Regions from separate parts of the Homo sapiens genome. Here regions 2 and 3 are each reported to be linked to region 1. Evidence: microRNA targets listed by miRTarBase, many of them from high-throughput screens and not tested one by one. Region 1 holds a microRNA gene; each other region holds the end of a gene's coding sequence.
The links. Region 1 holds the annotated microRNA hsa-miR-6884-3p (CCCAUCACCUUUCCGUCUCCCCU, at 2,734-2,756, opposite strand). A microRNA usually pairs through its seed, bases 2 to 8, with sites in the 3' UTR of a target mRNA and lowers its output. Matches are read on the target gene's strand: a 7mer-m8 pairs with bases 2 to 8, a 7mer-A1 pairs with bases 2 to 7 and ends in A, and an 8mer does both.

Region 2: the mRNA of CLEC17A is a reported target of hsa-miR-6884-3p. Seed matches in the 3' UTR shown: 7mer-m8 at 1,205-1,211.
Region 3: miRTarBase lists ZNF784 as a target of hsa-miR-6884-3p. Seed matches in the 3' UTR shown: 8mer at 3,189-3,196.

What each region holds. Positions count from the first base shown.
Region 1 is chr17:40,023,601-40,027,665 of GRCh38, forward strand. MIR6884 (microRNA 6884) reads right to left here and starts at 2,809; the gene lies at 2,732-2,809. It overlaps MED24 (mediator complex subunit 24), which reads right to left. Exons shown (of 26, transcript NM_014815.4): 16 at 3,783-3,865; 17 at 3,256-3,434; 18 at 3,047-3,146; 19 at 2,556-2,731. SNORD124 (small nucleolar RNA, C/D box 124) reads right to left here and starts at 4,045; the gene lies at 3,942-4,045. RefSeq lists an enhancer at 3,047-3,957.
Region 2 is chr19:14,609,705-14,613,763 of GRCh38, forward strand. CLEC17A (C-type lectin domain containing 17A) reads left to right here. Exons shown (of 14, transcript NM_001204118.2): 14 at 360-2,331. The coding sequence ends at 492. It also overlaps a transcript of ADGRE3 not described here. Among named protein-coding and RNA genes, the nearest start is that of SNORA104, 10 kb to the right of the region's middle.
Region 3 is chr19:55,618,410-55,622,468 of GRCh38, forward strand. ZNF784 (zinc finger protein 784) reads right to left here. Exons shown (of 2, transcript NM_203374.2): 2 at 2,332-4,059. The coding sequence ends at 3,342. Among named protein-coding and RNA genes, the nearest start is that of ZNF784, 4.1 kb to the right of the region's middle.

The DNA.
Region 1 (4,065 bases):
ACAAAGCCTATAAATAGGGACTGGGGAGGGACTTTCCTCCCCCTGGCCATTCCAGCCAGATATTCACATTTTCTTTTATTCTCCAACTTCCCCCATCCCCCAGGCCTGGGCCCTGCCAACCTGCCACATAAATAAACACAATCACTTCCCCCTAGGCTGAGTGCTTGGGGGTCCCCGCCCAGCCCTGGCCTCCTCCCAAAGTAAACTGTTCCTTCCAGGAGAGGCCCAAGGGCTGCCCCACAGGACTCTTCCCGGCCCCTGGTAGCTGGGCAGATAGAAGTGTATATCCAGGAATTTTCTCATGGAAAGAGGCTTCGGAAGTGAATACAGACCCGGGCCGAGTGCTGACTGTTCCTGGAATGCAGGGTGGCTCTGGGAAAGTTGCTATGACCTTTAGAGCCACTTTTCCCACCTGCACAATGGAGCCACAGACTTCTCACTACCCCTTACCCAGATAGGATTTAGGGTGCTTAGAATGGGTTACACCAGAGCAAAAGCTCCCTACTTGGTAGGGCGGGGGGGAAGGTGGTGGAGAAATGAGAGAAGAAAGGAAAAAAGGAGGAGGCAAGGGGAAAACGAGATGTGCTTTTCCAGACCGTCCAAACCTCATTCAGCTCAATGCTTCCCCTTCTCCCTATTAAGACATCCTCAGGCCCGGTGCGGTGGCTCATGCCTATAATCCCAGCACTTCAGGAGGCTGAGGCGGGAAGATCACCTGAAATCAGGAGTTCGAGACCAGCCTGGCCAACATGGTGAAACCCCATCTCTACCAAAAATACAAAAATTAGCCGGGTGTGGTGGCACATGCCTGTAATCCCGGCTACTCGGGAGGCTGAGGCAGGAGAATCTCTTGAACCCAGGAGGCGGAGATTGCAGTGAGCCTAGATAGTGCCACAGCACTCCAGCCTGGGTGACAGAGCGAAACGCCGTCTCAAAAATAAGTACATAAATAAATAAATAAAGACATCCTCAACGTTGCCATAAAGACATGGCAACACCCAAAACGTATTAGCTGGTAAACACCCATGTTCACAGCAGCACTATTCACTATAGCCCAAAGGTGGAAGCAACTGAAGTGTCCACTGACAGAGGAGGGATCAAGATGTGGTATAGCCACACAATAGAGGTTTCTTTTGTTTTTGTTTTGTTTTTTGAGACAGAGTCTCACTCTTTCACCCAGGCTGGAGTGCAGTGGCGTGATCTCGGCTCACTGCAACCTCCGCTTCCTGGGTTCAAGCAATTCTCCTGTCTCAGCCTCCCAAGTAGCTGGGATTGCAGGCGCCTGCCACCACTCCCTGCTCATTTTTATATTTTTAGTAAGGCCAAGGTTTCACCATGTTGGTCAGGCTGGCCTTAAACTCCTGACCTCAAGTGAGCCACTCACCTCAGCCTCCCAAAGTGCTAGGATTGCAGGCGTGAGCCACCACGCCCGGCCCACAACAGAGTATTATTCAGCCTTAAAAAGGAAGGAATTCCTGTCACGTGCTACTACATGGATGAGCTTTGAGGACACCATGCTGAGTGAAGTCAGTGAGTCACGAAAAGGCAAGGACTGTATGATTCCAGTTAAATGAGGCATCTAAAAAGTAGTCAAATTCAGCAGGGCACGGTGGGTCACGCCTGTAATCCCAGCACTTTGGGAGACCACGGTGAGAGGATCACTCAAGGCCAGGAGTTCAAGACCTGGCAATATAGTGAGACCCTGTCTCTACAAAGACTAGAAAAATTAGCCGGCTGTGGGCCTGCAGTCCCAGCTACTCGGGAGGCTGAGGCGAGAGGATCACTTGAGCCCAGGAATTTGAGGTTGCAGTGAGACTCACTCTGATCTGGGCAAGGGTAAGACCTTGTCTCAACAACAACAACAACAAAAAGTATAAAGTAGTCAAATTCCTAGACACACAAAGTAAAATGGTAGTTACCAGGAGCTGGAGGGAGGGGAAAATAGGAAGCTGTTGTTCAGTGGGTATGGAGTTTCAGAGATGCAAGAAAGTTCTGGAGACCTGTTACACAACAGTGTGAATATACTTAACACTACTGAACAGTACACTTAAACATGGCTAAGATGGCAAATCTTATGTGTTTTTTACAATTAAAAAAAGCAAACAACTTATTGGTTGGGTGAATGAACTCAACGTAACTGGTCACCAGGGAAGTCCTCCAAGCCCCTGAAGAGCCAGGGCAGGAAACTGTCCTAAGAGGTAACTGAGGGTGGGGCATGGCCTGTAAAATCTACAGACAGGTTCCTAGCTCCTAGACAGTCACACAGCTTTGTTCTTTTGGGAGCTAGTTGTCTAGAACTTGAGTCTCTGCGGGCAGACCCTGTTTAGGGTCTGCATTTCTGACAACACAGCAGGTGCTGGCATATAAACGCTTCTGCCACAGAGACACAGTACATGTTTGCTGAGTCAGATGAGTGAATGCATGAATAGGAAAGTGAGTGAGTGATCAAGTAGCGTGTTTGCGAAGGTCAGAAAAGAGAGGGGTGCTTGTTATTGGATGTGCTGACTTCTCACAACACACTTGAAGGGTCTGAGAAGGGAAGGCAGGTTACCGACCTCTCATTGTAGAACTGCAGGGTGTTCTCACTAAACAGTGGCCCTGCCAGCTGGCGGATCATCTGCAGCGACTTCTCACGCTCATCCAGCCCCAGCATCCGGACGTGGGCCACAAGCCAAGCCACAGCACACACCGCCAGACTGCATACCTTCCCTTTGATGTTATCAGTGATTTTCTAGGGGAGACGGAAAGGTGATGGGCTACCATCTATCTCCCTTTCTTGAGCCAACATCACCTTCTCAGCCTCTGCGGGCAGCTAAGTGCAGCGGGTGGAGTCCCGGGCCACATTCCACACCTCTCTCCACAAGTTTGATCTTCCCAGAGCTACCTGGGCCAGAGGGAGTAGCTAAGACAACGATTACACAAAATATCAATATCAAAACATGAGCTCCTGGATTAAAGGTCTTCTTGCCCTTACGAAATATAACAAGTCATCACTGGCTGGCTCTGTGTCTCAGGGGAGCAAACGCTGCTGGGAAGGCGGGGCTACCTGGATGGACTCGAAGGCCAGGACCCCATTCTCCCAGGCATTGAGGATTTCCAAGATGGCGGCTGAGATGCTGAGACAGGCCTCATGCCACTTCATCTGCCTGCGGGTGTGCAGAGAAGTCAGCACAGGGGAGCAAGGAACGGGCTCAGGGAGCGGGTCTTGACCCTGCCCCCACCGCCACCCTTGGAGTGGGCGCCCGGGCCACTGACACTAGCTTCATCTCCGAGGAGTTGTTGAGCAGGGCCACCAGGGACTCCACTTTGGTGGAGTCGGGGCGGAAGCAGGGGTGGTCAGGGTTCAGGATCTTGCCCTCCTCAGGCATGCAGGTCTGCATCCAGGTCTCGAAGAAGGGCACCTCAGCTCCTGTGCGCGACTCGGACAGAATCACCTGGGAAAGGGGAAGGGGGGCACCAGCCGAGTGGGGAGGGCGCGGCGCCTGCCAGCGCTGGACCTGGGGCTGCACTGTTTCCCGCCAGGCTGCTGCTCCAGCCCAGCCCAAAGACTGGGGACGAACTGGTCTAAGGGAGCCAGACGGGGGCAATGCTGCCACCTAGTGGTCAATGTGAACATAGGGCTGAAGGTGCCTCTACGGACTCCAGCCCGGGTGGGCACCTGGTTTCTGAGGCCCACAGAACTAACTGGCTGAGAGGCTGCGGGGGCGCAGGCAGTGAGGTGGGGAGAGTTCCGGGTTACCTCCTTCCCTTGAGCCCCCGTCCCGGTCGCTCCCCTCTCTCACCTCTGAACCATAGGTCTGGGCCACATGGCACAGCATGAGGAAGGAGATGTCAAACAGCAGGGCCCGGACGGAGGCCGGTTTGGCTGTGGAAGGACGGGAAGGCTGAGCTCCCAGACGAGGGCAGGGGGGAGCCCGTGTCTGGGTTGACAGGGATCGGGATTTGCCTCTAGGAAGGTCAGGGACCAAGTGGCTCCTTCAAAGCTCTGAGGCTCAGAATCCTTTTCTTGAGTCTCAACTGGAACATCATCCCTTCCTTGAGACCAAAGACCCCCAGCACCCTCTC
Region 2 (4,059 bases), not on the chromosome of region 1:
GTGGACACCTGTAATCCCAGCTACTTGGGAGGCTGAGGCAGGAGAATTGCTTGAACCCAGGAGACAGAGGTTGCAGTGAGCCGAGATCACGCCACTGCACTCCAGCCTCAGCGACAGAGTGAGACTCTGTCTCCAAAACAAAACAAAACAAAACAAAAAACCCCCCAAAACCAGAAATTGATTAAGGGCCAGGCACGGTGGCTCACTGTGCCCGGCTTACAGGTGTAAGGCTCCACACACGGCCTAATATGGGTTTTGCCAAATGCGTAGTGCCAGGTATTCATCATTACAGTATTATACAGAAGAGTTTCACCACCCTAAAGATCCCTGTCCCTCTGCCCACTTTTTCCTCCATCCAGCTTCTGGGAGCCAGAGGAACCCAATAACATCCACGATGAGGACTGTGCTACCATGAACAAAGGTGGCACCTGGAATGATCTCTCTTGCTACAAAACTACGTATTGGATTTGTGAGCGGAAATGTTCCTGTTGAAGCCCAGGGCCGAGGCTGGGGGTCCATATCTGAGTGTCTCTTTGAGATGAGAATCTCCTGCCCTTTCGTGGACGGCCTTGCCTCTTCGTGAGTGGACACACAGATGTGCCTCAAACAGGATTGGCACCCTGGATGCAGCAAGTTCCCAGGGGTGCAAGTCAGGCTGTTTCTAGAGTGAGGACTTGGGCTTGCCCTAGTAGATGGTGAGCTGGGAGGATGCTCAGAGCTTGGTGGTGGGAGGTCTCCCACTTCTGGGGTTGAAAGGATCTTCACTAAGTTCCTGATCATGACTCTTGGGAAGTGATACTAGCCCTGAGGACCCTGGGGCTGGTGTTGAACCTGGGATGAAATATCCTGGCGCCTGTGAACCACAAAGAGCTGGGACTGGGCTCCTTTTCCTGCAGCCTCAAACTTCTGGGCTCAGGTGATCCTCCCATCTCAGCCTCCTGAGTAGCTGGGACTACACATGCGCACCACCATGCCTGGCCAATTTTTTGTAGCATTTAAAGAGAGGGAGTCTCACTATGTTGCCCAGGCCAGTCTCAAACTCCTTGCCTCAATGGATCCTCCTACTTGGGCTTCCCAAATTGTGAGGATTACAGGTGTGAGCCACTGTGCCTGGCTCAAAATTATTATTATTATTTTTATAGAGATGAGGTCTCACTCTGTTGCCGAGGCTGGTCTCAAACTCCTGGGGTCAAGCAATCCTTCCGTGATGGCCTCCCAAAGTGCTGGGATTACAGGCATGTGTCACCGTACCTGGCCGATATTTTTATTTTTATTTTTACTTTCCCCATCTTTTCCTTTTTTTTTTTTTTCCAAACAAAAGCTTTGAAAGTGGTGACAGAAAAATTTCCCTTTGAGCTAGACCTCTAGATCTGCCTCGCACAGAAATACATTAAGTGGGCTGGTCTCATGTAGTCCCCACATCATTGCAAATTACAAACCTAAAAATACAGAACATCAGCGGAGAAGACAGGAGAGCTTCTATATTCACCCCATGTCGTCCTCTCCAGACACTGCTTCCTTCCTGGTCTCAAACAGCACAAATAACCCAGAAACCATCAAAATTATTTTTGACCAGCAACTTTCTCAATGTCTTGGGTGAGGTTTGCACAAGCTAAGTGGCAGAATCAGACTTTTGCCAGAAGACTTGGCCCGTGGAACTTCTATCCTTTTTTTTTTTTTTTTTTTTTTTTGAGATAGGGTTTCATTCTACTACCCAGGCTGGAGTGCAGTGGCACAATCATAGCTTACTGCACCCTCTGCCTCCTGGGCTCGAGTGATCCTCCTGCCTCAGCCTCCCAAGTAGCTGGGACTACAGGCGTTCACCCTCACACCTGGCTGGCCCATGGAACTTCTAGAAAGGCATACCAGCTGAAAAGCAAGACCCCTACATAGTGTGGCCAGGCAGGCCATAACCTGGTCATATCCACACAGGACAACGATGGACCTATCTGCCAGCACGTGCCCTTGAGCTATCTGTGGGTTGTAACGTCTTTGATGATATAATTCACTTTACTTGCCAGGCACAGTGGCTCACGCCTGTAATCCCAGCACTCTGGGAGACTGAGGTGGGCTGATCACCTGGGGTCAGGATTTCGAGACCAGCCTGGCCAACATGGTAAAATCCTATCTCTACTAAAAATACAAAAAAATTAGCTGGGCGTGGTGGCATGTGCCTGTAATCCCAGCTACTCAGGAGACTAAGGCACGAGAATTGCTTGAACCCAGGAGGCGGAGGTTGCAGTGAGCCGAGATTGTGCCACTGCACTCCAGCCTGGGTGACAGAGCAAGACTCCATCTCAAATAAATAAATAAAAATAAAAATTCACTTTACTTCTGTGTGGACTTTCCTGGGCTATTAGCTCTTGCAATGTTAGTGCTTCTCAAAATGCCACTATGTTGGGTGTTCCTTGTCTACTGTGTGTTAGTTTGCTGGGGCTGCCATAACAAAGGACTGGGTGGCTTCAGCAACAGAATGCATTTTCTCACAGTTCCGGAGGCTGGATGTCCAAGATCAAGGTGTTGGCAGGGTTAATTTCTTCTGAGGCCTCCTGTCTTGGCTTGTAGATGATCCTCTTCTCCCTGTGTCTTCACCTGGTTCTCCTTCTGTGTGTCTGGGTCCTAATCTCCTCCTCCTCTTCTTTTGTTTTTGAGACAGGGTCTCGCTCTGTCACTCAGGCTGGAGTGCAGTGGTGTGATCTCAGCTCACTGCAACTTCCACCTCCCAGGCTTAAGCATCCTCCCGCCTCAGCCTCCTGAGTAGCTGGGATTACAGGTGTGCACCACCGTGCCTGGTTAATTCTTGTATTTTTTGTAGCAACGGGGTTTCACCATGTTGCCCAGACTGGTTTTGAACTCCTAGGCTCAAGCAATCTGCCCACCTTGGTCCCCCAAAGTGCTGGGATTACAGGCATGAGCCACTGTGCTGGGCCTACAACGACCACTTTAAAGATCCTGTCTCCAAATACAGCCATATTAGGAGGTCCTGGGAATTAGAATTTAAACATATGCATTTGGGAGGGGTGGCACAATTTGGCCCATAACATTCACAAACTGCCAGAGTGACCCCCACCCGACCCTCCTGCCCTGGCCATGTGACAACCAAAAAATACCAATTAGAGGGCTGGTACTACTCCCAGCTAGGCATAACTCAACATAGTATTCCCTTTGGACAATCCCTGAATTGCATCCAAGGGTGGGTAGACATTCTCCAAACCAATCAATTTATTTTTTTTTTTTTTGTGACAGAGTCTTGCTCTGTTGCCCAGGCTGGAGTGCAGCGGCGTGATCTCGGCTCACTGCAACCTCTGCTTTCCAGGTTTAACTGGTTCTTCTGCCTCAGCCTCCTGAATAGCTGGGATTTCAGGCACGTGCCACCATGCCTGGCTAATTTTTGTATTTTTAGTAGAGACAGGGCTTTGCCATGTTGGCCAGGCTGGTCTCGAACTCCTGACCTCAAGTGATCCGCCCACCTCAGCCCCCTAAAGTGCTAAGATTACAGGCGTGAGCCACCATGCCTGGCCTTATTTTATTTTTTGAGACAAGGTCTCACTCTGTCGCCCAGGCTGGAGTGCAGTGTTGTAATCATAGCTCACTGAAGCCTCAAACACCTGAGCTCAAGAAATCCTCCGTCCTCAGACTCCTGTATAACTAGAACTACAGGTGTGCCCCCACCACACCCAGCTAATTTTAATTTTTTTTTTTTTTTGTATAGACAGGGGTCTTGCTTTGTTGCCCAGACTGGGCTTAAACTCCTGGTCTCAAACAATCCTCCTGCTTCAGCCTCCTAAAATACAAGGATTGCGATCAATTTATTGATCAATAAGCTCCCTTAATCAATAGCAGAATCTTTCCTGTTTTGTCTGAGAACAGGTGCTTATAGCAAGGAGACTGTGAGGAGAGCAGGTGGTGGGAGAGGTCGGAGCTGATTTCACTTCCTGTTTCTTTGATTTGTTTTAAATCTACTTGTTCTTTTATTTCGTTATTAAAAAAATTTTTTTTGAGATGGAGTGTCACTCTGTCACCCAGGCTGGAGTACAGTGGCATGATCTCGGCTCACTG
Region 3 (4,059 bases), not on the chromosome of region 1:
GTGCCTGTAATCCCAGCTACTCGGGAGGCTGAGGCAGGAGAATCACTTGAACCCAGGAGGTGGAGGTTGCAGTGAGCTGAGATTGCGCCACTGCACTCCGGCCTAGGCGACAAGAGCGAGATTCCATCTCAAAAAAAAAAAAAAAAAAAAAAAAGGAAAAAAAGAAACTTGAAGATGAAACTAGGTAAGAGCGCTGCTTGGGTGAGTCCTGTGTGACCCATGGGAGAGCAGCTACCCTGTGTGGCTCCATGTTCTAATGCTGAAGACCCAGCATGAGACAGACGTTGTGCCAGTGCCCCCAGGGTTCAGGGTTCAGCAGTAACATGGAAATGGAGCCTCACAGTGTAAGGGACTTGGAAGTATCACTAGGGCTTGAGGGAGCACAGAGGAGTCACCTGTCAGAGTGGAAGGGGGGCTAGAAAAGCTTCTTGGGGAGAAGGTGATCCCTGAACGATGACATAAACCAACTGGAGTTTTCCAGGTAAAGAAGTGGCAAAGAGGCCGGGCACGGTGGCTCATGCCTGTAATCCTAGCACTTTGGGAGGCCGAGGCAGGTGGATCACGAGGTCAGGAGCTCCAGACCATCCTGGCTAACACGGTGAAACCCTGTCTCTACTAAAAATACAAAAAATCAGCCGGGTGTGGTGGTGGGAGCAGGTGGCAGGCGCCTGTAGTCCCAGCTACACGGGAGGCTGAGGCAGGAGAATGGCATGAACCCAGAAGGCGGAGCTTGCAGTGAGCCGAGATCATGCCACTGCACTCCATCCTGGGCGACAGAGCAAGGCTCTGTCTCAAAAAAATAAATAAATAAGAAAAAAAAAAAAAAAAAGAAGTGGCAAAGATTTCCAGGCGGAGAGTTTAGTGTGTTGAACTAAACCCTGCTATTCTGGAGCATTTAAGACAGATTAGTATGGCTGGAGGTTGGGTTCCTGGGGGCTAAACCCTGAAGGGTCTTGAATTCCAAACTGTGGGGCTTGGGTGATTTTATAGGCTAGAGGCTGGAAACTGGCAGCTGCAAGGCCGAATATGACCACTAACACATTTTTGTTTAGTCTGTGCATTTTTTAAAAAGTTTGACTTGACTGCCAACATTGGGAAATCAAAAGATTTTACATAATGTGAACTAATGGAACTTCTGAAAGAAACTGGAAGATGTGGCAACCCAATCTGTGTTCCGGAGCTGAGCAGCCATTACCCTCTTCTGAAGAGGCACTCTCCAATTTGTTGAATACCAATTCTGAGACCTGGTGGCAATCGCCATTATTTCATGTTGCTGATATTTTCCCCTTGAACCTGGCCGTCTTGCTCGTGTATTTACATTTTCACCCAGCTCCTGTAGGCATTCACATTTCCAAATCGTCTCAAAGCCACAAGGAGCTGTGTCTTGGTGACAAGGATCTGCATGGATGCCATATGGAGAATGAAGAGGGCAGGTGGCCGGGTGCAGTGGCTCACGCCTGTAATCCCAACACTTTGGGAGGCCGAGGCGAGTAGATCACCTGAGGTAAGGAATTTGAGACCAGCCTGGCCAACATGATGAAACCCCATCTCTACTAAAAATACAAAAATGAACTGAGCGTGATGGCGCCCACCTGTAATCCTAGCTACTCAGGAGGCTGAGGCAGAAGTGCTTGAATCCAGGAGGCAGAGGTTGCAGTGAGCAGAGATTGTGCCATTGGACTCCAGCCTGGGCAACAAGAGCAAAACTCCATCTCAAAAAAAAAAAAAAAAAAAAAAAAAAAAAAAAAAAAAAAAAAAAATGCAGGCACTGGACTGCTGTGCAGTTGTCTGTGTGTGAGACCACTGTTGGTCTACAAGTGTAGTGATGCCGAAAACACGTTCCAGTTCCAAAGATATTAACTGGCTCAACTGAGGGAAACTGATAAGGGACTGGACATAAGAATGAGGATGAAGAAGGTTTAAACCTGCCCAGGTATCCAGCTTGGGTGGTGGTGCCAATGACATCAGAAGCATGGAGGTTTCTTTGAGGAAAATGGAATGAGTTCTGTTCACATTGTGAGTTGCCTGTGAGTTATCTCATGGGGCCCACTGGGTGAACAGAAAGGTGTGCAAATCAGAGGCTCTCACTCAACAAGCATGCAAAGCATGTTGAGTGTGCTTTTGCCAAACTTCCCTGACCCCCCTCTCCTACAGCTGAACCACATAACACGTAACCACAGTGGGGCCTACTCACCCCCCATTCTGATGATGGGGAAACAGAAGCTTGGAGGAAGAGATGATGCAACTGACTGCTGGTGGCAAAACCATGGTGAGGCCCCTCCTCCCCCAACTCCCCAAAGCGGACAATCCGAATACAAGACCGACAGAGAAGCCCTTCAGAAGGTCCTTTAATAGGAACAGAACTGAAGGTGTCACACCTCCAGCTCCCAAGTCCTCCTCTCGCCCCCACCACAGTGACTCTTTCACTCCACACCCAGGCCAGCCCACCATGCTGCCATCAGCCAGCCCGCCCTTGGGATTGGCGGGGACTAGGCAGTAAGCTGTTTGCTTCGAACTGGGAGTGGAGGAAATTAGAGAAACCTGAGGCTACCTTGAGGCTTGTGGGGGACCCTGGGCTCTGAGTCTAAAGCTTTAGGAGGGGGATGCTAGGTAGCTGCTTGCTTTATGTGTTCTCAGTTGCCTCCGAAGAAGAGTGGATGGGTTAAGGACGGACCACAATGGGGGTGGGGGTTGCCGCTGTTGGAGTCAAGATCCTATGGTCAGGCTTACATCCTTGAGGCTCAAGTGCTCTCAGCGGTGACTTGGGGACCCTCTGGCTTTGAGGTGATGGGATCCCAGAGTCTCTTCACAGATAACCTGGTGAGTGTCTTCTGCCAGAGGGTGGATAGGCATCCCAGGTCCAGTGCAATGCAGTGAGGTAGGCAGGAGACTCCATCCTGGTCCACCCGTGGAGGACCAGAGCAGAAGACTATGGTGGACCCCAATTCCCCCCTTCCATTCGATCCTGGCTCCTCCTCTGAAGTGCCCAGGCTCTGTCGTGACAGGCTGGGTCTTGCACAAGGACAAGCCAACCAAGAGACAGTCGGGGAAGTGACATCCAGCCCGTGGGCCTTGCCTTTGGCCGCACACCCGCAGAGCTGCAAGAGCTGCACCTGTCCTCTCCTAGGCCTGGCAGAGGTGCTGTGTGGGCGTGTGGGAGTCTGGAGCCTGGCCCTCTCCCTCTGCTCTCCATCACTAGCGGCTCACAACCATCCCTGCAGCTGTCATCTCTCCCCCAATCTCCCCTCTTCTGTCCCCTGCCTCCGTTTCCCCACCCCGTCCCCCTCCCCGGGTCGGCCTCGTACCTCCGCCTTAACTAACCCATGTCCCTGGTCTGCAGCCTACTGGTCGGCCTCCACCTTCACCTTCGCGGTCTCCCCCCGCCCCTCCTCCGCAGGGTCCCCTACCCCACACCCGCTCCCCGACCCCTCAGCCGCCGACGAGCCCAGCTGGCCTCCAGAGTCTCCCAGCCCCGGCCCCGGCCCGTGGAAGTGGGTGCGCTGGTGCTTGCGGAAGTTGGAGGAGTTGTTGAAGGTGCGGTCGCAGAGCGTGCAGCGGAACGGGCGCTCGCCAGTGTGGATGCGGGCGTGGCCGCTAAGCACCGAGGACTGGGTGAAGCCCTTGCCGCAGATGCCGCAATGGTATGGCCGCTCGCCAGTGTGCACGCGCTCGTGGTCTCGCATGTCTGAGGAGCGGCGGAAGGGCTTGGCGCAGAACCTGCAGGCAAAAGGCTTCCCCACCGCTGCGCCCGCCGCCGCCGCCGCCATCACCACCTCCGCCCTCTCCGGGGCCACCCCGGGCCTCTGTTCTGCAACGGCCGCTGTGTCCGGAGGCCTCCGAGAGGTGCCCGGCTCCACCCCGTGCCGGTGCTGGTGCCGGAGCAGGGGCGCCAAGGCCTTGAAGGCGCGGGGGCAGAGCGCGCAGCGGTAGGGCCGCTCCCCCGTGTGCAAGCTGTAGTGCGCGCGCAGGCTGGCGGGGCCCGGGCAGCTGTGGCCGCACACGTGGCACCGGCTCGGGTCCCCACCCTGCCCGCCTCCCTCGGCCCCAGCCAAGTGGCCA